Linked DNA regions of Homo sapiens: regions 2 and 3 are each linked to region 1. The links come from fine-mapping of genetic effects on gene expression. A gene starts in region 1. Each other region holds a variant in brackets. All regions are shown on one strand. Distances are between the middles of the regions. Region 1 holds the start of TRIM58 (tripartite motif containing 58). Region 2 overlaps TRIM58 (tripartite motif containing 58). Region 3 overlaps OR2T12 (olfactory receptor family 2 subfamily T member 12).

Evidence for each region. PIP is the estimated chance that this variant, and not a neighbour inherited with it, causes the effect. A credible set is the group of variants that fine-mapping cannot tell apart.
Region 2: its variant is the best candidate, but not a certain one, in a credible set for the expression of TRIM58 in testis (GTEx, PIP 0.56).
Region 3: its variant is the best candidate, but not a certain one, in a credible set for the expression of TRIM58 in whole blood (TOPMed, PIP 0.50).

Annotation. Positions count from the first base shown.
Region 1 is chr1:247,853,792-247,861,978 of GRCh38, forward strand. TRIM58 (tripartite motif containing 58) reads left to right here and starts at 3,396. Exons shown (of 6, transcript NM_015431.4): 1 at 3,396-3,875; 2 at 6,826-6,921. The coding sequence starts at 3,456. RefSeq lists a cis regulatory region at 1,309-1,873.
Region 2 is chr1:247,879,377-247,887,563 of GRCh38, forward strand. It overlaps TRIM58 (tripartite motif containing 58), which reads left to right. Exons shown (of 6, transcript NM_015431.4): 6 at 1-762. Among named protein-coding and RNA genes, the nearest start is that of OR2W3, 12 kb to the right of the region's middle. The variant C/G (reference allele first, on the strand shown) is at 4,219.
Region 3 is chr1:248,293,158-248,301,344 of GRCh38, forward strand. It overlaps OR2T12 (olfactory receptor family 2 subfamily T member 12), which reads right to left. Exons shown (of 3, transcript NM_001004692.2): 3 at 1-2,429. The coding sequence starts at 2,421. The coding sequence ends at 1,459. Among named protein-coding and RNA genes, the nearest start is that of OR2T12, 6.2 kb to the right of the region's middle. The variant G/A (reference allele first, on the strand shown) is at 4,160.

The DNA of each region.
Region 1 (8,187 bases):
GGTGCTTTATTTACGCCAAAAGAAAGCTCATGAGAAAATACAAATTTAAGTTAGAGTATTCCCATTAAACCAGAAACTGCCTGGCGAGGCACTCCACATAGCATTTGTAAATACAATGACATCTGGATATAATCCAGTCCACAACTTACCTGCATGGACGTGCTGTAAGGGAAATGTGTGTTTCTAAGAACAATGGTACCGATGTCATTCCTAGTCAACCAGTGTCAGAGACAAAACAGTTTAAGCTCAGCAACTCTAGGACCAGCAGGGGAAGAAGTGAGCTCGCCCACTCCGTCACACCCTACTGAAAACCACAGTGACCCCCAACGTCAGAAGCCAGGGGCCTTTCCTTAGGATCACAGGCACTAGGAAATCTGAATTTAAGTGAGCCTAGTTATCAACTGGCCCATATATTTGAGTAAATGGATTGTTTTACTGTGTCTCGTTATGCCTGCAAAATAGAAAAATGCTCCAGCATCTGCCAGAGTTATGGAGAGCCAGGGCAAGATCATATATGTAAAATGCAGAAAAACATGGATTTGACATTTGACATAATATAATCATCTTTGAACTTCCCTCTTTCATTAGCTCCTATGATAAACTGTCCTAATTCTGTTCATTTACTTATTAACTTGTTTAATCAGTTAGTATGTGTGGAGTGTCCATTTGTGCCAGTTACTCTTCAAGGTCCTGGGGATAGATAGAGCAGTGAACAAAATAGAAAAAAATCTCTCTTCCTAATGTAGCTTACCTTTTGACTCACCATCCTTCCATTCACTTCACTATTTCATTTCCTTTTCTTCAATTAAATATATTTGCTACATGGCCGGGCGAGGTGGCTCACACTTGTAATCCCAGCACTTTGGGAGGCCAAGGTGGGGAGATTGTTTGAACCCAGGAGTTTGAGACCAGCCTGGGCAACAGGGCGAAACTCTGTCTCTACAAAAAATACAAAAATTAGCTGGGCGTGGTGGCGGGCACCTGTAGTCGCAGGTACTTGGGAGGCTGAGGTGAGAAGATCACTTGAGCCTGAAAGGTAGAGGCTACAGTGAGTCAGGTTGTGGCACTACACTATAGCCTGGGCAGCAGAGCAAGACCCTGTCTCAATATATATACGTGTGTGTGTGTGTGTGTGTGTGTGTGTGTGTGTATTTCCAACATGCCAGGACCTATATTAAGTGTCTACTATCTATTAGCTCGTTTAATACTCTGAAAGGCCTTATATGAATGACACTAACACCTCTTCACTGCACGTCAGAAGAAATGCAGGGCAGAAACGCGGCACAGCTTGCCTCAAGCTTCTCAGCAAGTGCCACAGCCCTTAGTCCGGAGCCAGAGTCTGTTTTTCTTTGCTAAGCCTTCTGCTCTTTAGCTTTTTTCTCTAATGCCACATCTTTCGTGTTTTGCTAATACAGATCCATGTGTGTTCTCCAAGAATCTATTCGCTTTAATTGCGCACTTAACCTTTAGGCCTCAAGATCCTCTGCTCTGCCTGTCGCCAGAGATCCAGCCCAAGAGTTTGTCCTTATAATGAAGACCCACAAACCCCAGAGGATCCCCAAGGACCTGAGTCATCTGGCCCCGCCTCTTGCTGCAGCCTTATCTGCTGCCACCATATTCTGGCCCAGCTTGCCAGCCTGCCTGGCTTCTCACTGTCATCTGGGTATGTCTTGCTCCCACCTGCTGAAGTTTACCTTGTACCTTTCATGGCTTCTGGGGGCACGGCCTTGCGGAGCCCCCCTTCCCGCTGGCCAGCTTGTGTTCACCTATCAGAGGTTTGCTCAGAGACCTCAGGTGTCTGCCCCCGACCCTGCAGCCTCATTCAGAGTCCTCTGTTATATTCCTGCAGGACTGGTGAGCGACCTTCCTTGCAGTTATTGGTTTGTAATTATATGTTTGCATGATTTCATATCCACCTCTTCTAGTTGATCTTAAGGCTCCTGGAGAAATGGGGTCCCACCTCTTTTCCTTAACATGTGTATTTTCAGTACCCGGTGCAATGTCTGAGACTCCTGGCTACAAACAGACACAATGTGTGCTCAGGGACAGATTGATTTGCCACAGGTACACCCCACCATCACTTCAAACTCGACCATACTAAAGTTATTTTGCACAGATGCAGACACTGCCTCAGACTTGTCGACTTTCTGGACGACATTAGAGACTTTAATGTACTTTATCCTGATTCAGCCTTCCACTGGATGAAGTAACATACTCTGTCAAATCATTTTGCTCCTGTCTCAGCCTCCCCCATCTGACAGGTACACCACTGAGAGGCTAAGCTTGAATTATTCCTCTGATGAGTATCTCTATAGCTTTGTCATCTCCAAGACTGGCTTTGCAACAATCCTACAACATGTGTGTATTCCTTGTAGGATCCTCATTGAACTAGGCCAGATATTTATTTAAATATTTAGAATTATTTTTGGCTGGGCTGTAAACCTATAGTTACACACACCTATGCAGGCATCTTCCCGTGTCAGGCGGTGTCTCATTTCTTTATCAAGAGGTAATTAGTGCAAGAGAAAAAAATGAAGTTTGAAAAAAACATTTAAAAATTGATTATGCCATATAAAGGGGGAAAGCCTTTTAAGAAACGATTATGGCATGAGAGGACCATGGAGTAGCTCAGTAACAATGGAAGGGGCTCGGAGGGTGGAAGGCGGGCGAGGGATGAGAGATCACCTAATGAGAACAATTTACGCTATCACAGCGATGCCTGCGCTAAAGCCTAGACTTTATGCAGTGTCTCCATGTAACAAAACTGCACTGGTACCCCAGAAATCTGCACTAAATCTATATAATGATGATGGAGGCTGGGCGCGGTGGCTCGCGCCTGTAATCCCAGCACTCTGGGAGGTCGAGGCGGGCAGATCACCTGAGGTCACGAGTTCAAGACCAGGCTGACCAAAATGGTGAAACCCCGTCTCTACTAAAAATACAAAAATTAGCCGGGCATGGTGGCGGGCGCCTGTAATCCCTGCTGCTTGCGAGGCTGAGGCAGGAGAATCGCTTGAACCCGGGAGGCGGAGGCTGCAGTGAGCCGAGATCGCGCCACCGCACTCCAGCCTGGGCGACAGAGCGAGACTCCCTCTCAAAAAAACAAAAACAAAAACAAACAAACAAAGATGGAAGGAAGGAGGGAATTTAGCAATTCTCCAGATCTACTGCCAGTGAAAATAGCATATGAGGAGGGATTCCAGTTAGAAATGCCCAGTTTCCTGGGTGTGTGTGTGACGGGGGCGGGGAACCACAACGTTAATTTTATCCCCGACATAGGGAGCGCCTGAGTGGTGGCTTTTCACCGGGTGTGGCTCGTCTGAGCTCTTGAACTGAAGCCAGCGGACACCACCCGTCGGCGCCTGCTTTCCTGGGGCGTGGGCTCCTCCCCCTGTGCAGACCGCGAGGGGAGACGGTGCGGGCGGCCGGGAGCGCAGCCCTCCGGGAGGCGGGTCATGGCCTGGGCGCCGCCCGGGGAGCGGCTGCGCGAGGATGCGCGGTGCCCGGTGTGCCTGGATTTCCTGCAGGAGCCGGTCAGCGTGGACTGCGGCCACAGCTTCTGCCTCAGGTGCATCTCCGAGTTCTGCGAGAAGTCGGACGGCGCGCAGGGCGGCGTCTACGCCTGTCCGCAGTGCCGGGGCCCCTTCCGGCCCTCGGGCTTTCGCCCCAACCGGCAGCTGGCGGGCCTGGTGGAGAGCGTGCGGCGGCTGGGGTTGGGCGCGGGGCCCGGGGCGCGGCGATGCGCGCGGCACGGCGAGGACCTGAGCCGCTTCTGCGAGGAGGACGAGGCGGCGCTGTGCTGGGTGTGCGACGCCGGCCCCGAGCACAGGACGCACCGCACGGCGCCGCTGCAGGAGGCCGCCGGCAGCTACCAGGTGAGGCGCCCCCCGGCGGGGGCTGCGGGCGCTGCGGTGACCGGGAAGCGGGCGACAGTCCGGAGCGGAGCCGCCGAGGCCACCCGTCTCCTGAGCGGCTCCCACGGCCGCTCCCCCCACCGCGCGCCGTCCCCCCCGCCCACGCGGCTCACTCAGTGTGGGTCTCTTTGCCTTGGCTGTGGTAACCCCCTTTGCGACACACACCCATTATTTTACACCGTCCGCCCCTCCCCCAAGCACTCTCCTGTCGTCGAACTCGCGCTGGGCTGGTTTCTCCCGATGCGGATAGTCTGGTCCCTCAGCTGGGCTCTGGTCGGGAGGGCTGTGTGGTCCAGTTCATTCTTGGTAACAATTGTACGTCTATATCGTAAACTTGCCATAATAATTCTCATTTGTGCAATGCTTTGCTTTTGCACAGTGTTTACATTAAATGAGTGTTGTCAGCAAAGCAACCCTCGGGTTTGGGCGTTGTTAAGAAGAGTGTCGAGCTGGGTACGGGTTCCGACCCCTCCAAAGCTCAGGTGCACGTGCCTCCTGAAGTAGGAGCGGGTGGCTCTCCATCAGCAGGGATTTGGGGACTTAGGATTCGAACATCCTCAATGAAGAGGTGCTTCATTTGGGGTGTAGCCCGGGAAGCTTCAAAGAGAAAGAAGAAAAACAAAATGGGAGTATTTGGTCCCCAGAGTGGCATCTGTGAAATTGTGTGTCGATTTCTTCCTACTGGTGCCCTTCAAAAGTTCTTGGATGTTTTCTGAACACACTTGAATCCCAGCATGTAGAACAACTGCCAGCACAGAGGAGGTCTAAGTCGTCTTTACTGACAGATTTAACCAAAGGACTGTCAGTCGCGCTGTAGTGCATTGCAAATACTTTCTTAAAATTTTTATTTATTTATTTTGTTTGTTTTAAATTAAGGTTTAGGATATTTTCCCCTTCCTTCTCTACCAATATCTCTCTTGGTATTTCTTCTTGATTTTCGTTGTCATTTGCGAGATGTAGGTACTAGTACTAGGTAATTTCTAGCTAAACTTTTCTGGAATGTTCTTGCCTTTTTAAAAAAAGTCCAGAAAGAGGATTGGTAGTAACTTTTTTTTTTTTTTTTTTTTTTTTTTGAGACGGAGTCTAGTTCTGTAGCTCAGGCTGGAGGGCAGTGGCGCAATCTCGGCTCATTGCAACCTCCGTCTCCCGGGTCCTGGTGCAAGCAATTCTCCTGCCTCAGCCTCCCGGGTAGCTGGGATTACAGGTATGCGTCACCACACCCGGCTAATTTTTGTATTTTTAGTAGAGACGGGGTTTCACTGTGTTGGCCAGGCTGGTCTTGAACTCCTGACCTTGTGATCCATCCGCCGTGGCCTCCCAAAGTGCTGGTGTTACAGGCAGCCCAGCCTCTAGTGTAATATTTCTAAAGGTGTTCTCCATATTTTCAGTAGTTCTTCGGTTAAATACCAAATAAATATTATCTAAACTCCTGAGCCTCTCAGTGAAAGCTTTCTAGGGCCCTAAGTTATGTTTCCATAGCTCTCTTGTCTTAACCAGCCAGGAAACCCAGCAAATTTAGCCGAATCACTGTTTTCCTAACTGTGCTACATCTCCTTGCTTTTGCTGACAGTTTCTTTGGCCTGAGGGAGCTTTTCTTTATCTACAAGTGTCAAAGTGCTCCGTTCTTTGTAAACACCAAAACACATGCCACTTTCCCCACTGAGTCAAATGGTATCATGAATTCTACTGTTATTTTATATATAACAATTATAATATTCTCCTTTTAAAAACAATTGATGTGTATGTAGGATTTATTGAGTAACTTTGGGAATATAATTTTTTAATTAAAATCCTGTTTATGTATGTATCTTTGTGAGTATTTAAAATACACATATTTACCTCTAGTGAGCGCCCTATCATTGAAGGAAGATTTAGTTCTCATTGTATTTTTACTCATTGCAAGGTTTACAACATACTGTGTTTTTTCATATAAAATATGATAACCTACCAAGTTCCTTCTGACCTAATAATACTACTAATACTACAATAATAAACCCATGCTTTATCATAAAGTAACCAATAACTTCAAGAAGTTGAAGTTATATAGAGAAATACAGAATACAGTTATATAGAGAAATATATAAATATAGAGAAATGTATAAATATAGTTATATAGAGAAATATATGAAATATAGAGATATAATAGCATCACTCTTCATCCAAACACCAATAGATGACATTTTATCTAATATCATTCTCATTTACATCAGCCCAGTTTTAATATATTCATTACCAGCACATTTTTTTTCAAAATTCATGTTGTTTTGTAAAATATTTTTATTCATTGGACATTATCATTGTATTTCTAGTCATTAAACATTCTGTAACATCTTATTTTAATTCTATCCAGTTAATATAATTTTTTTCTCCCCTATCTTTAATGTTTTAGTTTAGTTATGCTATCGTATATAACAATGCAGTGAGCATACTTTTAGATAAATATTTGATTGTATCTGGTATTAAAATACATTTAAGGAGCTAGGCCCAGTGGCTCATGCCTATAATCCCAGCACTTTGGAAGGCCAAGATGGGAGACTCTCTGGAGGCCAGCAGTTTGACACCAGCCTGGGCAATATAGTAAGACCCCATCTCTACAGAAAACAAAATTAGCTGAATGTAATGATGTGTGCCTGGAGTCCTAGCTGCTTGGGAGGCTGAGGTGGGAGGATCATTTGATCCCAGGAGTTTGAGGCTGCAGTGAGCCATGATCGCAACACTGCACAACCTGAGTGACAGAGCGAGACCCTGACACTAAAACTTAAGTACATTTATGTTTAGTTTTTAATGATATTGAACATTTTTATGTGCTTTCTAGGGACTGTTTAAGTTGACTTTTGTATTTCCTCACACATCTGTGTGACGTTAGGTACAGATTGAGGGCATCTGTAACAGCTGAAATGTTCCCAAACAGGTAAAGCTCCAGATGGCTCTGGAACTTATGAGGAAAGAGTTGGAGGACGCCTTGACTCAGGAGGCCAACGTGGGGAAAAAGACTGTCATTTGGAAGGTAAGACCATGTTGGGGCTTTAGGAGGCTTGCCTGTTTGAAGGATCCAGATTCGGGTCAGTAATTCTTCTACCATCTTCCATTCTCCAGCACTTTTGTTCCATCTCCATATATGCCCAAGAGCACCTCAGAGCCATCCTGGGTCATCCCGTCCCCTCAAATGATATGGTTCATTTTTGTTCTTTTTGTCTCTACTGCCATCACCCAATCCAAATTATAATTAAATAGCTTTGCTAGTTTGATCTTCCTGTAAAACCCACTGCTGTATCCCTGTCACCTAGAATAGCATCTTATACTGTTGCTACCAGTTTGAAAATATTTGTTAGGTGAATGAAATAATGAATATTTCACAACTTTGTAACAGAAGAAGTGTAGCCCAAGGTGATCATCTTATATACAGGGTAATAATCTGAACGTTTAGCCTTTTTTTTCTATCATCTATACATACACATATTCCATTTTTTTATACCTCACTAGCTCTTTTTATTCCATGTTTCATTCATGCACATGTGCGTGCACACGTGTACACACACACACAGTGATTCATACACACACAGTGATTCACATACACACACACACACAGTGATTCTCAACCTGAGGCGATACCTGCCCCCCAAGATAACATTTTGCAATTTCTGGAGATGATATTTTTGGATGTCACAACTGAGGAGGGGTGGGTGCAGTGCACCTGTCATCTAGTAGAGGCAGGAATGCAGCTTAACACCCTGTAGTCCACAGGACAGTTCCCATATCTTGTGAGGAAAAAATGATCTGTTCAAGATGTCAGTAGTGTCAAGATTGAGAAACTACGTATAGAAACTGTGTGTATAGTTCTATATATTCATATAATGTATTATATAATATGATATATAATAGGTTATACTTTGCAGAATATTCCTATTCTTTCTCCTTTTCCAAATAACCCTTCTTTTCTGATCACTCTATATATTTATAATTATTTCCTTCTTGTTTTCTTTGAAAATTTAGTCTTATACTCTGTCTTTATACAGATATTACATAAAGACTTTTTAAACTATATTTTTCTTTATTTACTACATTACTAGATTACAATATAGATATATACGGATAGGAAAAGATAACACTTATCCCAGAAGAAACATGTACATTAAGGCCAGGCGTGGTGGCTCACACCTGTAATCTCAGCACTTTGGGAAGCCGAAGCAGGTGGATCACCTGAGGTCAGGAGTTCGAGACCAGCCTGACCAACACGGAGAAACCCCGTCTCTACTAAAAATACAAAAAAAAA
Region 2 (8,187 bases), 26 kb after region 1:
TTATGACTTTCGTTTCCTCACAGTGGTCCTGCTTGGGCTCTAGGCCCTTCCACTCCCATTCTCTCTACAGCAGCTGGGCTGATTCCTTTAGCACCCAAGGATATGTTGGCATCACAGTGACTTAGATACCATCACAAAGACCTCCCATTCAACTTAGAGTGAAAGTCAGAATCCTCACAGTGAATCCCCAGGCCCTAGAGGATGTGAACCCCCAGGCCCTAGAGGATCTGAACCCCCATCCCTCCTCTGATTATCTCTCCCACCCCCACTTCCCTTTGCATTCTGCTCCAGCTGCCCTGGCCTCATGGCTGGGTTTCCACCAAAGCAGGCACTTCCCATCACAGGGCCATTTCCCCGCCTGTGGCTTCTGCTTGACATTCCCTTTTCCCTGATATCCCCTTGACTCATTATTCCCTTTCTTCCTTAACTCTTCTGAGATCCAGCTTCTCAGTGATACCACACAGCCCTACTCCCCCCAGAGCCCATCTAGAGCTCACCTTTCCAGTCGCCCTTGCCAGGCTCAGTGGAGGCTCTTTGTTCCCCATACAGTACGTGTCGTCGTACTATATTGTTAGGCTTATTTAATTTATGTATGTTTTGCCTTTTTGTGCTAAATGTAAACACCACAAGGGGAGGTATCTTTGTCTGTTGACAATGATACATTCAATGTTTCTCAAGCACCCCCAATGCTGGTTTGTATGTGGTTATCATTCAATCTGTATTTGTTGAATGAATAAATGATTGACTATGTGGAGAGCAAAATTGATGGACCTGAAAATGTTTTGCAAAATGTAATATAGTCTACTGATACAATATTTATTATTATTGGCCAATAATGTTTAATGCCAAGTGCTAAATTAGTAAAATTTTGGGGATATAGAGAAAAATTGAGCAGAAGTCTTAAGTTTGTAAACATAATGGATTTTGTGACCTGATAACTTGGCATGTCCAGGCCTAGTCCCATTGAGCCCCCTGTGGTTTTGATTCCCTGTGACATCACAGTGACACCTTTGAATTATGCTTTGTCTCATACTCCATAAGCCACCTCTCAAAATGGTATCATCACTAAAAATATGGGGAACTTTCTATAAACTTACATAGACTACAACCTTTAAAAAAAAAAATTGATGTTAATGTTTTATGTTGCCTTTCTTCACCTAAACGATATGGTGCATCCACGCCATCCAGAAATGGAGTGTCTTGGGTCTGCTGTCCTTCCCGTCGCTTCCCTGTTACTGTGCATTTCTGTTATATACATTTGGCATTTTTTCTATCTCAAATCATAATTTTTTTTCTTTCTGACATATCCTTAAGGACTGCTCTGACAGTTACCAGTGAAATTCTTTCGTTCTCTATAAAAATTTGAACATCAACTCTGGTAGAGCACAGTGGCTCATGCCTGTAATCCCAACACTTGGGGAGACTGCGGTGGGAGGATTGCTCGAGACCAGAAGTTTGAGACCAGCTGGGCAACAAAGCAAGACCTGGTTCCTACAAAAAAAATACAAATTAGCCAGATATGGTGGTGCAAACCTGTAGTCCCAGCCACTTGGAAGGCTGAGGCGGGAAGATGGCTTGAGCCCAGGATTTCAAGTCTGCAGTGAGCCAGGATCACGCCACTGCACTCTGGCCTGAGTGACAGAGTGAGACCCTCTCCCTTAAAAAATAGAAAACTAAAAGAGAAAGTCAATCCCCAACATGAGCTTCTAGCCTTTTCTAAGCTATAACCCTCCAGAACTATGTCTACATATCCAGAAGTGTGGATAATTTATTCAAAGAAGTAATTTGCTTAATACCCCCCGATATGGTTTGGCTTTGTGCCCCCACCCAAATCTCATGCTCAGTTATAATCCCCAGTGTTGGAGGTGGGCCTGGTGGGAGGTGATTGGATCATGGGGGCAGTTTCTCATGGTCTAACACCATCCCCCTTGGATAAGTTGTGAAATCTGGTTGTTTAAAAGTGTGTGGCTCTGCAACTTTCTCTTGCCCCTGCTCTTGCCACGCAAGACACCAGTTCCTGCTTTGCCTTCTGCCATGAGTAAAAGCTCCCTGAGGCCTCCTGGAAGCAGATGCTGCCTTGCTTCCTGCACGGCCTGTGGAACCGTGAGCCAACTAAACCTGTTTTCTTCATAAGTTTTCCAGTTTCAGATATTTATAGCAGTGTGAGAACAGGCCAACATACCCTCATGACCCCTTCTCCAAATCAGGTGACTGGTTTATCAATTTACTAAGCTTTTTTTTTTTGAGATGGAGTCTCACTCTGTCACTCAGGCTGGAGTACAGTGGCATGATCTTGGCTCACTGTAAGCTTTGCCTCCCGGGTTCAAGTGATTCTCCTGCCTCAGCCTCCTGAGTAGCTGGGACTACAGGCGCCCGCCACCACACCCAGCTAATTTTTGTGTTTTTAGTAGAGACGGGGTTTCGCCATGTTGGCCAGGCTAGTGGTCTTGAACTCCTGACCTCAGGTGATCCGCCTGCCTCAGCCTCCCAAAGTGCTGGGATTACAGGTGTGGGCCACTGCACCCGGCCTTAGACTAATTTTTCTAGCATGTTGAGAAGGCCCTGAGTGAAGAGGACTGGGAGGAGGGGATACAGGGAGCAATCAGGAGTGGGAAGTGAAATAACCTCTTTAGCCAGCAAAAGTAATGGAAAGCACTTAGAGTGGTGATTGCAACCCCTAGAACCCCAGAACGCAGAGAATTGGGAACACTGGGATCTGTTCAACCTGTCTGCCCTCCAAGCACTGACTCCTTGGTACTTGCTTTCTCTGTGCTGCTGGGGCCCCCTGTGGTCTGCTTTTCTATCACACAGGGAGGAAGAAAGGACGTCAGGGCCTGCGTATGTGTACCACACATATTCTATGAATTCTACACCATGTAGAATAGTCTCTTTACTCTCTAATTCTCTGACTACATCTACCCAAAAGTACCCAGTCATATTGATAAGTTTCTTAGTTAATTGACTCTAAGTCTGATTTTTTTTCTGACATTGCTTGGCTATTTCTGTATATTTATTTTCTTTAAAAAATTCAGCATTGCGATGTCATTTTTGCCTTTATAAGAGCATTGAAAACATAGTTACATATACATACCTAAGTCATGATACTTGCTCAATTTCCTTATCAGTTTTTGAAACTATAAACCTATGTATGCTAACATCTTCCTTTCAAACCAAAAAGTAAAAATAAGGCTGGGCGCAGTGGCTCACACCTGTAATCCCAGCACTTTGGGAGGCCAACGGGCGTGGATCACCTGAGGTCAGGGGTTCAAGACCAGCCTGGCCAACATGGTAAAACCTCATCTCTACTAAAAATACAAAAATTAGCCAGGCGTGATGGCGGGTGCCTATAATCCCAGGTACTAGGGAGGCTGAGGCAGGAGAATTGCTTGAACCTGGGGGGATGGAGGTTGCAAGTCACAGTGAGCAGAGATTGCACCACTTCACTCCAGCCTGGGCAAAAGAGCAAAACTCCGTCTCAAAATAAATAAATAAATAAAAATAGAACAGGCCATGCTGTAGCTCCTTAATGTAATAATACACTTTATGTGATTTTTTTCACTATGTAGGACAATGGGTTCTTTCTCTTTCATACACAAAAATATTAGTAAAAAGAAGATGTCAAAATATTTTGGCCCTATTTTCAGCAGATAAAACGAGAGAGAAAAAACAAAATGCATGATTCTGTTCTAGGTAGCATGGGACCAATTATGCCTCAGCTGTTTTCTTAGCCGTATAATGATTGTTGGGAACAGGGGAGGGGAGCAAATGGCTCATTGGTATTTATGGTTTTAGAACAGCAATGAATTGAGTCCCCTAATTTTACTTATGTGAGGTAGTAAATTCTTTTTATATCAAGGGACAAATTCTCATGGTGCTCATTTTCTCTCTGGACCTGACGGGAGATTGGGCAATTTGATGTGGTGCGCGCCTCTGCCTCAGTGGATGTGCTGGTGATCCCTGTGGGTCTGAAGTTTCCCCAGCGCTTTGGGCTGCTGATGAACCCAGGCTGCCATCAGGGTCCGTCTCCAGTCTTCCCTCAGCGGAGCTGCAACACTGCGTAATTGCAAGAAACCCCTGTTCACCAATACTGTGGGCCATTGCATTTATAAGGAATGGGCCAAGCCTGAGAGAGGCACTTGGATTTCCTTACGCCTGGCTACAGCACCTGTGTGCGCCCAAGAGGGTAGAAGGCATTTCGTGACCTGGCTGAGGCCCTCT[C/G]GCTATGTCTGTGTTCCTGCATTCTTTCAGTGTTGCCTAGCAGCATGCAAGTGAAAATGGTGAGCAGGTTTCTGGATTGAGGAACTCAGCTCAGAGGTCTGCACGTCTAGGTTGGTTTGTTAAATGAATAAGTCATAGGGAGTGCCTCAAGGGTTAAAAAAATCTGAAGAACATACTCCTTGCTCTTAGAACATTTATAAATTATGACAGGCCGGGCGTGGCGGCTCACGACTGTAATCCCAGCACTTTGGGAGGCCGAGGCGGGCGGATCACGAGGTCAGGAGATCGAGACCATCCTGGCTAACACGGTGAAACCCCGTCTCTACTAAAAATACAAAAAAATTAGCCGGGCATGGTGGTGGGCGCCTGTAGTCCCAGCTACTTGGGAGGCTGAGGCAGGAGAATGGCGTGAACCCGGGAGGCAGAGCTTGCAGTGAGCCGAGATCGCGCCCCTGCACTCCAGCCTGGGCGACAGAGCGAAACTCAGTCTCAAAAAAAAAAAAAAAATTATGACAGACACACCAACACACAAAGACATACACAGACAGCACTTATATCACAAGTCGTTTAATTATAACAAAGCACTACATCTACCAATGCAAAATTATTATTATTACTATTATTATTATTATTATGTTTGAGACAGTGTTTCGCTCTGTCTCCCGGGCTGGTGTACAATGGGGTGGTCTCGGCTCACTATAACCTCCGCCTCTCGGGTGCTAGTGATTCTCCTGCCTCAGCCTCCCGAGTAGCTGGGATTACAGGCATACGCCACCACGCACGACTAATTTCTTTTTTTTTTGTATTTTTAGTAGAGATGGGGTTTTCCATGTTGGTCAGGCTGACCTCGAACTCCCAACCTCAGGTGATCCACCTGCCTCAGCCTCCCAAAGTGCTGGGATTACAGGCGTGAGCCACCGTGCCCGTTCTAATGAGAGTCTTCTTTAACCTCCACTTCACTTTCTAAAAGTGAGTCTCTTTTTGGCGGGGGTCGGGGAGGACAGGGTCTCACTCTGTCGCCCAGGCTGAGGTGCCAGTGGCATGATCACAGCTCACTGCAGCCTCGACCTCCTGGGCCCATTGACCCCCGTACCTCAGTCTCTTGAGTAGCTGGGACCACACCTTTGTGCGACCGTGCCGGGCTAAGGTTTAATTTTGACTTTTGTACAGATGGTGTCTCCCCATGTTGCCCAAGCTAGAAATGAGCCTTTTCAACAATTTCAAACCGTACGTCCAGATATCAGTTCTGTTTGAATACAAATACAGTCATGCGTTGCTTAACGATGGGGATGTGTTCTGAGAAAGGCGTCGTTAGGTGATGTTGTCGTTGTGTGAGCATCACAGCATGTACTTACACAAACCCAGATGGTGTATCCTACCACAATCCTGGGCCATAAGTGTCTGGGATAGCTTGTCACTCCTAGGCTACAGACGAGTACAGCATGGTACTGTAGTGAATACTGAAGACAGCTGTCACTCCGTGGTAAGTATATGTGTATCTAAATATAGAAAAGGCACAGTAAAAATACTGTATAAAATACAGAAAATGGTAACCTGTCTAGGGCATTTACCATGAATGGAGCTTGCAGGACTGGAAGTTGCTCTGGGTGAGTCAGTGAGTGGGTGGTGACTGAATGTGAAGAGCCAGGACAGTCGTGTACATGACTACAGACTTTATCAACTTTGTACACTTAGTCTATATTAAATGCATTAAAAAGTATTTTTCTTTCTTCAATTAGAAACTATCCTTAGTTTATGGAAACATTTTTACATTGTAAACCTTTTACTTTTTATTAACTTTGTGACTTTTTTTGTAATAGCACTTAGCTTAAAACACACATTGTAAAACTGTATTAAATACTTCCTTTTTATTCTTATTCTACAAGTTATATTCTATTTTTTTTTTTTTTTCACTTTTCAAACTTTTTCATTGCAAACTAAGACACAAGCAAACACATTAGCCTGGGTGTCCACTGAGACAGAATGATCAGTACCACTGTCTTCCACCTCTACACCTTGTCCCACTGGAAGGATTTCCGGGGCAGCCACATGCATGGAGCTGTCACCTCCTATGATCACAATGCCTTCTACGATACTGCCTGAAGGACCTGCCTCAGACTCCTCTTGAGGAGGTGAAACCACCACAGATGTAATTTGTTGTTGACCAAAATGTGTTGTTCTGCAACATGTGCCTGTATACATATATACGTACCGTGTGTATTTGTGTTTGTATAGTGAGAGTTTGTGAACAAAAAATGGAGTCACACTACATATAATCTCACTATACATTATATTTAGCTTTCTTTCTTTTTTTTTTTGTTTTTTGAGATGGAGTCTCGCTCCGTCACCAGGCTGGAGTGCAGTGGTGCGATCTTGCCTCACTGCAACCTCCGCCTCCCGGGTTCAAGCGATTCTCCTGCCTCAGCCTCCTAAGTAGCTGGGGTTACAAGCATGTGCCACCATGCCTGGCTAATTTTTGTATATTTTAGTAGAGATGGGGTTTCACCATCCTGGCCAGGCTGGTCTCGAACTCCTGACCTCGTGATCCACCCTCCTCAGCCTCCCAAAGTGCTGGGATTACAGGCGTGAGGCACCGCACCCAGTATAGTTAGCTTTCTACTTGTTTGATATTAATATCTTTTTTTTGGACAAAATTCTGGGTAATGTCATTCCAATTTAGTGATTGTTTCCAGTCGTCTATTAAATCATGTCTATCACTTTAACATACCTTGTTTCCCAGTATTATCTATTTCAGTAGATGCTATAATGAAGTTTTTGAGAGTATGTGTTTACTGATTGAGGGTTAATAAATGCAAAGCAGATTCCTAGATGTGGAATTAACAGGGCAATGAGAAAAGCATGTCATTTAACATTTTATGAAAGACAGATATTTCTTTTGTTAAAATAATATGTACTATGTCAAGGTATATGTGTATTTAAATAGTCATTTTTTTAAGATCTCTCCAAAGATACTATTTCAATTTTGACTCTTATCAAGAGTTCATGAGGCCAGGCATGATGGCTCATACCTGTAATCCTGGCACTTTGGGAGTCCAAGATGGGTGGATCGCTTGAGATCAGGAGTTCAAGACCAGCCTGGGCAACATGGCAAAACCCCATCTCAACTAAATATACAAAAATTAGCTGGGTGTGGTGGCACATGCCTGTAATCTCAGCTACTTGGGAGGCTGAGGCAGGAGAACCTGGGAGGATGAGGCTGCAGTGAGCCCAGATCACACCACTGCACTCCAGCCTGAGTGATACAGTGAGACTCTGTCTCAAAAAAAAAAAAAAAAGTTTATGAGATTGGACTTATTTCCCACATTTTTTCAAGCTCTGGATATTACCACACTTTTCACTATTTACCTATCTGGAAAAGCAAATATCTTTATATTTAAATTTTTATAACCTCAATCATCAGTGAAAACATTTCTAATGTTTATATCACTTGCTTGTAAATCATGCATTTTCCTGTGAACTGTTTCTTCAAGTCATTACATATTTTTCTTTTACTACAGGTTTTTCTTGCCACTTTTTTGAGAAAAAAATTAAGTAAGGTAGCCTTCAGTTGTCTTGTTGAATTTTTCTACTATTGTTATTATTTTTTAGACTTTGCTAGTAGTGTTTCTTTTTGTTTTGTTTTGTTTTGTTTTTGAGACAGAGTCTTACTCTGTCACCCAAGCTGGAGTGCAGTGACACGATCTCGGCTCACTGCAACCTCCGCCTCCCGGGTTCACGCTATTCTTCTGCCTCAACCTCCCGAGTAGCTGGGATTACAGGTGTGCACCACCACACCTATGTAATTTTTGTATGTTTAGTAGAGAAGGGCTTTCACTGTGTTGGCCAGGCTAGTTGTGAACTCCTGACCTCAGGTGATCCACCCACCTTGGCCTCCCAAAGGGCTGGGATTACAGGCATGAGCCACCGCACCTGGCCAAAAGTGTTTCTTAGAGTGTAAATTTTTCTAAA
Region 3 (8,187 bases), 440 kb after region 1:
TCAGGATCTGCATGCAGTGGTTAAGGTACTATCTTAACTATATTACTGCTTTGGAACCTGAAGATCTAGATGAAGCAGGAAACTCCTTTCACTTGTTCTAGAACAGTTACCTTTTGAAATTCAGGTTGGTCTGAAATGGCGGGTTAACTTTCAGACACTTATATTGAAGATACATTGTCCCTGGAAGCTCTTAGTTATTTCCTCCTTCGTGTTAAAAACTTATATTATTTCTTAAGTGTGTTTTACATATGGGAAATATAGCCTTTATCATAAAACTCTCTAAGACAATTTGATATCCAGTCTCTGATTACAATTTGGCTTTGATAACCACTGCTTTCCTCCATCACTATCTATCTTGTGTCTTTAATAATAGTATAGTCTTCTTTTATTCTTCTGCAAACTCCAAATCTTTAAAATGTGTCCCAAATTTTTCATCAGAAATATCTCTACTTACCTATGCCTTGGGAGAAGTAAGGTAACCCAATAATGTATAAGGTTGTTGAGTCTTACTCAGCTTTGATAACTCATTGTTAGTAACTGTCAAGATTCAGCATGATCATGCAATTCAGAGTTCATATCGATGGAGGTATGTCAATAAGTCAAGGTAACCTTAAAGCACGTGTAGAAAAGAGAACTTATTTGTAGTTTAAAACAATTTTCCAATGCAATTACAATGACGCTCTTGGAAAAGATAAATATTACTTATATAAAAAATTACATGAATTTAAAAAAGTTTGCCTTAAAACACCAAATAAAAAGAGACTGGAAAAAATAAAAAAAGATTGTGACAATATAGCAGTTACATTTGAGTTGTGTACTTCCCCTTTTGTCATGCATCTATATTTTAAAATATAACTTAAAAATAATGTTATTTGTCTTTGGTGGAGTCCTCATATTTAGTTTTTAATTGTAGAGCATACACATGGGAAATAACACTCAAAATACATTATTGAACAGAAATAAACTCTTCCAGGTTAGGGTACAAGCTTTGGAGTCACTTTTTAATATTTCTGTTCTATGTGAAATTAGGAACCATATTTAACTTTCCATGTGTTAATTTCTTTTTTCAGATAGTAGGAAATTGAGTAACACTCAACAACCTTATACATTATTGGGTTACCTTACTTCTCCCAAGGCATAGGTAAGTAGAGATATTTTTGATGAAAAATTTGGGACACCTTTTAAAGATTTGGAGTTTGCAAAAGAAAAAAAGAAAACTTATATCATGGGGTTGTTGTAGGATACAAAGTAATCTATAGGTATTACTTCACTTGAAGAAAAGTACATAAATGCTCAAAAATGGTATCTGTCAATACAATTGGCTCACTTCATTCTTAAAAATATCTTATTATATCAATACACAAACTTAATTTTCTCTTCATGAATTACTAAAGGGAGAGAATTACATAGTGTTAAAATGTTAATAAATTCAGGAACTTAGACTCATCTGACACTAGATCATCTTGACCTGTGGGCCTCATTTTGCTGGTGTTTTAGGTTTACACACGTCCCCAGCCACCGTTTCAGGGCTTCCTTGACCTCACTGTTCCTCACACTGTAGATGAGGGGATTTAGTAAAGGGGTGAACATAGTATAGAAGGCTGACACAACCTTATCGTGGTTAGTGGACCTGTGGGATTTGGGTCTCATATAGGTAAAAATGCCAGCTCCATAAAAGAGTCCCACCACAGCCACATGTGAAGAGCAGGTGGCAAAGGCCTTCTTGCGGGCTTCTGTAGAGCGCATGAGCAGAACAGCAGCGAGGATGAGACCATAGGAGGACAGGATGAGGGAAAAGGGGACCAGGAGCATTAACACACAGCAGATGTACATGGCGTTTTCGAAGACTGAAGTGTCAGCACAAGCCAAACGCACCAACACGGGGGCCTCGCAGAAGAAGTGATCGATCTCGTGTGCACCGCAATATGGGAAGCTCAGGGTAGCAACAGCCTGCAGGAGGCCGTCAGCTGCACCCAGGAGCCAGGACGACATGGTCATCCTCAGGCACAGCTGCCAGCTCATGAGAGTGGGATATCGGAGTGGGTGGCAGACAGCCGCATAGCGGTCATAGGCCATGGCTGCTAAGAGGAAGCACTCTCCACCACCCAGTGTGGGGAGGAAGAAGATCTGCACACCACAGCCAGCGCGGGAGATGGCCTTATTTCCGGTCAAGTAGTCAGCCGCCATTTTGGGCACAGTGGTGGAAACCAGCATCATGTCCATGAGGGAAAGTTGGCTCAGGAGGAAGTACATGGGCCTGTGGAGCCGGTGGTCCCAGTGAATCAGGAGAATCATGAGGGCATTGCTAAACAGGGAGGTCAAAACGGTGGCCAGAAGCATCATGAAGAGGACTTGGTGGGCTCTGGTGTGGTTAAAGAGTCCTAGGAGAATAAAATCTGGGGTAGTATTTCTCATCTCCATAATTTCCCCTGGTGTGATGGTGCAAATGGAAAAATAGAGAAAGAAGAGGCTTTTATGGTCTGAATAACTGTTTGACTGCACAGTTTCTGGACATATGTACTGGATATGTTATCCCAGGTCGTGATTCAAAGCCCTGACTCCCAGTAGGCACAGCTTTTCCTGACCTGGCATTCACTTCTCTATAGCTCAACTTTTTAATGTTCTAACTGAGATCATGTACTACAAACAGGAGTATATTTACAGATCAAAATGAATAAAAATTTTTTTTTTAGTTTTGTTATTTTTTTAATTATACTTTAAGTTTTAGGGTACATGTGCACAATGTGCAGGTTAGTTACATATGTATACATGTGACATGCTGGTGCGCTGCACCCACTAACTCCTCATCTAGCATTAGGTGTATCTCCCAGTGCTATCCCTCCCCCCTCCCCCAACCCCACAACAGTCCCGAGAGTGTGATGTTCCCCTTCCTGTGTCCATGTGTTCTCATTGTTCAGTTCCCACCTATGAGTGAGAATACCCGGTGTTTGGTTTTTTGTCCTTGCAATAGTTTACTGAGAATGATGATTTCCAATTTCATCCATGTCTCTACAAAGGACATGAACTCATCCTTTTTTATGGCTGCATAGTATTCCATGGTGTATATGTGCCACATTTTCTTAATCCAGTCTATCATTGTTGGACATTTGGGTTGGTTCCAAGTCTTTGCTATTGTGAATAGTGCCGCAATAAACATATGTGTGCATGTTTCTTTATAGCACCATGATTTATAGACCTTTGGGTATATACCCAGTAATGGGATGGCTGGGTCAAATGGTATTTCTAGTTCTAGATCCCTGAGGAATTGCCACACTAACTTCCACAATGGTTGAACGAGTTTACAGCCCCACCAACAGTGTAAAAGTGTTCCTATTTCTCCACATCCTCTCCAGCACCTGTTGTTTCCTGACTTTTTAATGATTGCCATTCTAACTGGTGTGAGATGATATCTCATTGTGGTTTTGATTTGCATTTCTCTGATGGCCAGTGATGGTGAGCATTTTTTCATGTGTTTTTTGGCTGCATAAATGTCTTCTTTTGAGAAGTGTCTGTTCATGTCCTTCGCCCACTTTTTGATGGGGTTGTTTGTTTTTTCTCGTAAATTTGTTTGAGTTCATTGTAGATTCTGGATATTAGCCCTTTGTCAGATGAGCAGGTTGCGAAAATTTTCTCCCATTTTGTGGGTTGCCTGTCACTCTGATGGTAGTTTCTTTTGCTGTGCAGAAGCTCTTTAGTTTACTTAGATCCCATTTGTCAATTTTGTCTTTTGTTGCCATTGCTTTTGGTGTTTTAGACATGAAGTCCTTGCCCGTGCCTATGTCCTCAATGGTAACGCCTAGGTTTTCTTCTAGGGTTTTTATGGTTTTAGGTCTAACGTTTAAGTCTTTAATCCATCTTGAATTGATTTTTGTATAAGGTGTAAGGAAGGGATCCAGCTTCAGCTTTCTACATATGGCTAGCCAGTTTTCCCAGCACCATTTATTAAATAGGGAATCCTCTCCCCATTGCTTGTTTTTCTCAGGTTGGTCAAAGATCAGATAGTTGTAGATATGCAGCGTTATTTCTGAGGGCTCTGTTCTGTTCCATTGATCTATATCTCTGTTTTGGTACCAGTACCTTGCTGTTTTGGTTACTGTAGCCTTGTAGTATAGTTTGAAGTCAGGTAGCGTGATGCCTCCAGCTTTGTTCTTTTCGCTTA[G/A]GATTGACTTGGTGATGTGGGCTCTTTTTTGGTTCCATATGAACTTTAAAGTAGTTTTTTCCAATTCTGTGAAGAAAGTCATTGGTACCTTGATGGGGATGGCATTGAATCTATAAATTACCTTGGGCAGTATGGCCATTTTCACGATATTGATTCTTCCTACCCATGAGCATGGAATGTTCTTCCATTTGTTTGTAACCTCTTTTATTTCATTGAGCAGTGGTTTGCAGTTCTCCTTAAAGAGGTCCTTCACGTCCCTTGTAACTTGGATTCCTAGGTATTTTATTCTCTTTGAAGCAATTGTGAATGGGAGTTTACTCATGATTTGGCTCTCTGTCTGTTATTGGTGTATAAGAATGCTTGTGATTTTTGTACATTGATTTTGTATCCTGAGACTTTGCTGAAGTTGCTTATCAGCTTAAGGAGATTTTGGGCTGAGACAATGGGGTTTTCTAGATATACAATCATGTCATCCGCAAACAGGGACAATTTGACTTCCTCTTTTCCTAATTGAATACCCTTTATTTCCTTGTCCTGCCTAATTGCCCTGGCCAGAACTTCCAACACTATGTTGAATAGGAGTGGTGAGAGAGGGCATCCCTGTCTTGTGCCAGTTTTCAAAGGGAATGCTTCCAGTTTTTGCCCATTCAGTATGATATTGGCTGTGGGTTTGTCATAGATAGCTCTTATTATTTTGAGATATGTCCCATCAATACCTAATTTATTGAGAGTTTTTAGCGTGAAGCGTTGTTGAAATTTGTCAAAGGCCTTTTCTGCATCTATTGACATAATCATGTGGTTTTTGTCTTTGGCTCTGTTTATATGCTGGATTACATTTATTGATTTGCTTATATTGAACCAGCCTTGCATCCCAGCGATGAAGCCCACTTGATCATGGTGGATAAGCTTTTTGATGAGTTGCTGGATTTGGTTTGCCAGTATTTTATTGAGGATTTTTGCATCAATGTTCATCAAGGGTATTGGTCTAAAATTCTCTTTTTTGGTTGTGTCTCTGCCCGGCTTTGGTATCAGGATGATGCTGGCCTCATAAAATGAGTTAGGGAGGATTCCCTCTTTTTCTGTTGATTGGAATAGTTTCAGAAGGAATGGTACAAGTTCCTCCTTGTACCTCTGGTAGAATTTGCCTGTGAATCCTTCTGGTCCTGGACTCTTTTTGGTGGGTAAGCTATTGATTATTGCCACAATTTCAGCTCCTGTTATTGGTCTATTCAGAGATTCAACTTCTTCCTGGTTTAGTCTTGGGAGGGTGTATGTGTCGAGGAATTTATCCATTTCTTCTAGATTTTCTAGTTTATTTGCGTAGAGGTGTTTGTAGTATTCTCTGATGGTAGTTTGTATTTCTGTGGGATCGGTGGTGATATCCCCTTTATCATTTTTTATTGCGTCTATTTGATTCTTCTCTCTTTTTTTCTTTATTAGTCATGCTAGCGGTCTATCAATTTTGTTGATCCTTTCAAAAAACCAGCTCCTGGATTCATTAATTTTTTGAAGGGTTTTTTGTGCCTCTATTTCCTTCAGTTCTGCTCTGATTTTAGTTATTTCTTGCCTTCTGCTAGCTTTTGAATTTTCAACCCAGAATTTCATATCTAGCCAAACTAAGCTTCATAAGTGAAGGAGAAATAAAATACTTTACAGACAAGCAAATGCTGACAGATTTTGTCACCACCAGGCCTGCCCTAAAAGAGCTCCTGAAGGAAGCACTAAACATGGAAAGGAACAACGGGTACCAGCCACCACAAAATCATGCCAAATTGTAAAGACCATCAAGGCTAGGAGGAAACTGCATCAACTAACGAGCAAAATAACCAGCTAACATCATAATGACAGGATCAAATTCACACATAACAATATTAACTTTAAATGTAAATGGGCTAAATGCTCCAATTAAAAGACACAGACTGGCACATTGGATAAAGAGTCAAGACCCATCAGTGTGCTGTGTTCAGGAAACCCGTCTCACGTGCAGAGACACACATAGGCTCAAAATAAAAGGATGGAGGAAGATCTACCAAGCAAATGGAAAACAAAAAAAGGCAGGGGTTGCAATCCTAGTCTCTGATAAAACAGACTTTAAACCAACAAAGATCAAAAGAGACAAAGAAGGCCATCACATAATGGTAAAGGGATGAATTCAACAAGAAGAGCTAACTATCCTAAATATATATGCACCCAATACAGGAGCATCCAGATTCATAAAGCAAATCCTGAGTGACCTACAAACAGACTTAGACTCCCACACAATAATAATGGAAGACTTCAACACCCACTGTCAACATTAGACAGATCAACGAGACAGAAATTTAACAAGGATACCCAGGAATTGAACTCAGCTCTGCACCAAGCGGACCTAATAGACATCTACAGAACTCTCCACCCCAAATCAACAGAATATACATTTTTTTCAGCACCACACCACACCTATTCCAAAATTGACCACATAGTTGGAAGTAAAGCTCTCCTCCGCAAATCTAAAAGAACAGAAATTATAACAAACTGTCTCTCAGACCACGGTGCAATCAAACTAGAACGCAGGATTAAGAAACTCACTCAAAACCGCCCAACTACATGGAAACTGAACAACCTGCTCCTGAATGACTACTGGGTACATAACGAAATGAAGGCAGAAATAAAGATGTTCTTTGAAACCAACAAGAACAAAGACACAATATACCAGGATCTCTGGGACACATTCAAAGCAGTATGTAGAGGGAAATTAATAGCATGTGCACATTGTGCACATGTACCCTAAAACTTAAAGTATAATAATAATAAAATTAAAAAAATAGAAAAACGATGTCTAATATGTGATCGAGTTTTTCCAAAAAGAATATGTCTCCAAAGCAAACAGATAGTTCCTATAACATCAGAAGTCTTTTACAGATAAATTGATAGAGAAATTCAGCTTCAGTCAGCATGTGACCAGCACAATACTAGAAATGGAGATTAAATTTGTGTCTTCGATCACATGATAGTAGGCAAATCATTTTTGTCAATCATCATGAAGAGAGAAACAGGTCTCAACCTCCTCCCTTTCTGGTTTTAAAACAAATCAAGAACTTGGATAAACCTGATTATTGGTATCTGAGATCTAGGTTCAGTCAATGTCTTGAGAATGAGAAATGGGCATTTCTGGGATCTTTAGTGTTGTGGGTTTCCCACCTCAGGGTGCCATTGTGTTAACCTCAAGAAGAGGTGGGCTTTTAAGGAAAATTGGGAAAATACATTGTATTGCCTCAATAATTTCCAGTGCTTATGAGCGGAATTCACTTCAAGAAAATAACTCATCTCAACTTACTTTATGGAACCACCTATTTTGACCATCATACCATAGCTGTCCCAGTTATCTGGATCTTGTCAACTGTTGTAATACACAATTTATCCAAATAAAACGGTATTACCTCAGATTTCCACCATAATTTGTCTTTAAGTGAGTCTTGCTATGAGCTTCCTTGCAAGAAGGAAGCTATGTGGTCAAGTTCGCTTCTCCCTATGCTTCTTTTTCAGTTGGCAAAGTGTTCTTTACATTTGGGAAACACTACTTCCAAGTCACTAAGTTGAGATAAAATGGTGATTAATTCTACTTGATCACTTAGACATTTCTACCATATGTTTTACATTCCATTGAATGATGCAGCATTAAAACAAAATTGATTACAAATGTAAATCTACATATCCCTCTGAATTGTCTCCATCACATTAGTTTAGGCTGAATTTATATAAATGCACTCTTATTTGTGTTGTATTTTTTCACCTCCCTTCATTGCCTCAAAATTCCCTTCATACCCACATGCTAAAATTGACTTCATTGATTTCATCCTGTCACAGAGAATGTGGCAAGATATATCACAAATTTATAACAGTTTATAAGTGATAAAATTGAAAATACTGAGCACTAGATTGCCCTATGCCTTCTATATTAAGATCCATGTGAACATTTATTCAATAAAATTCTATAAAGAAAAATAATGTTGTTTCTAACGAGAAATTTGACATTCCTTCTAAGTAAG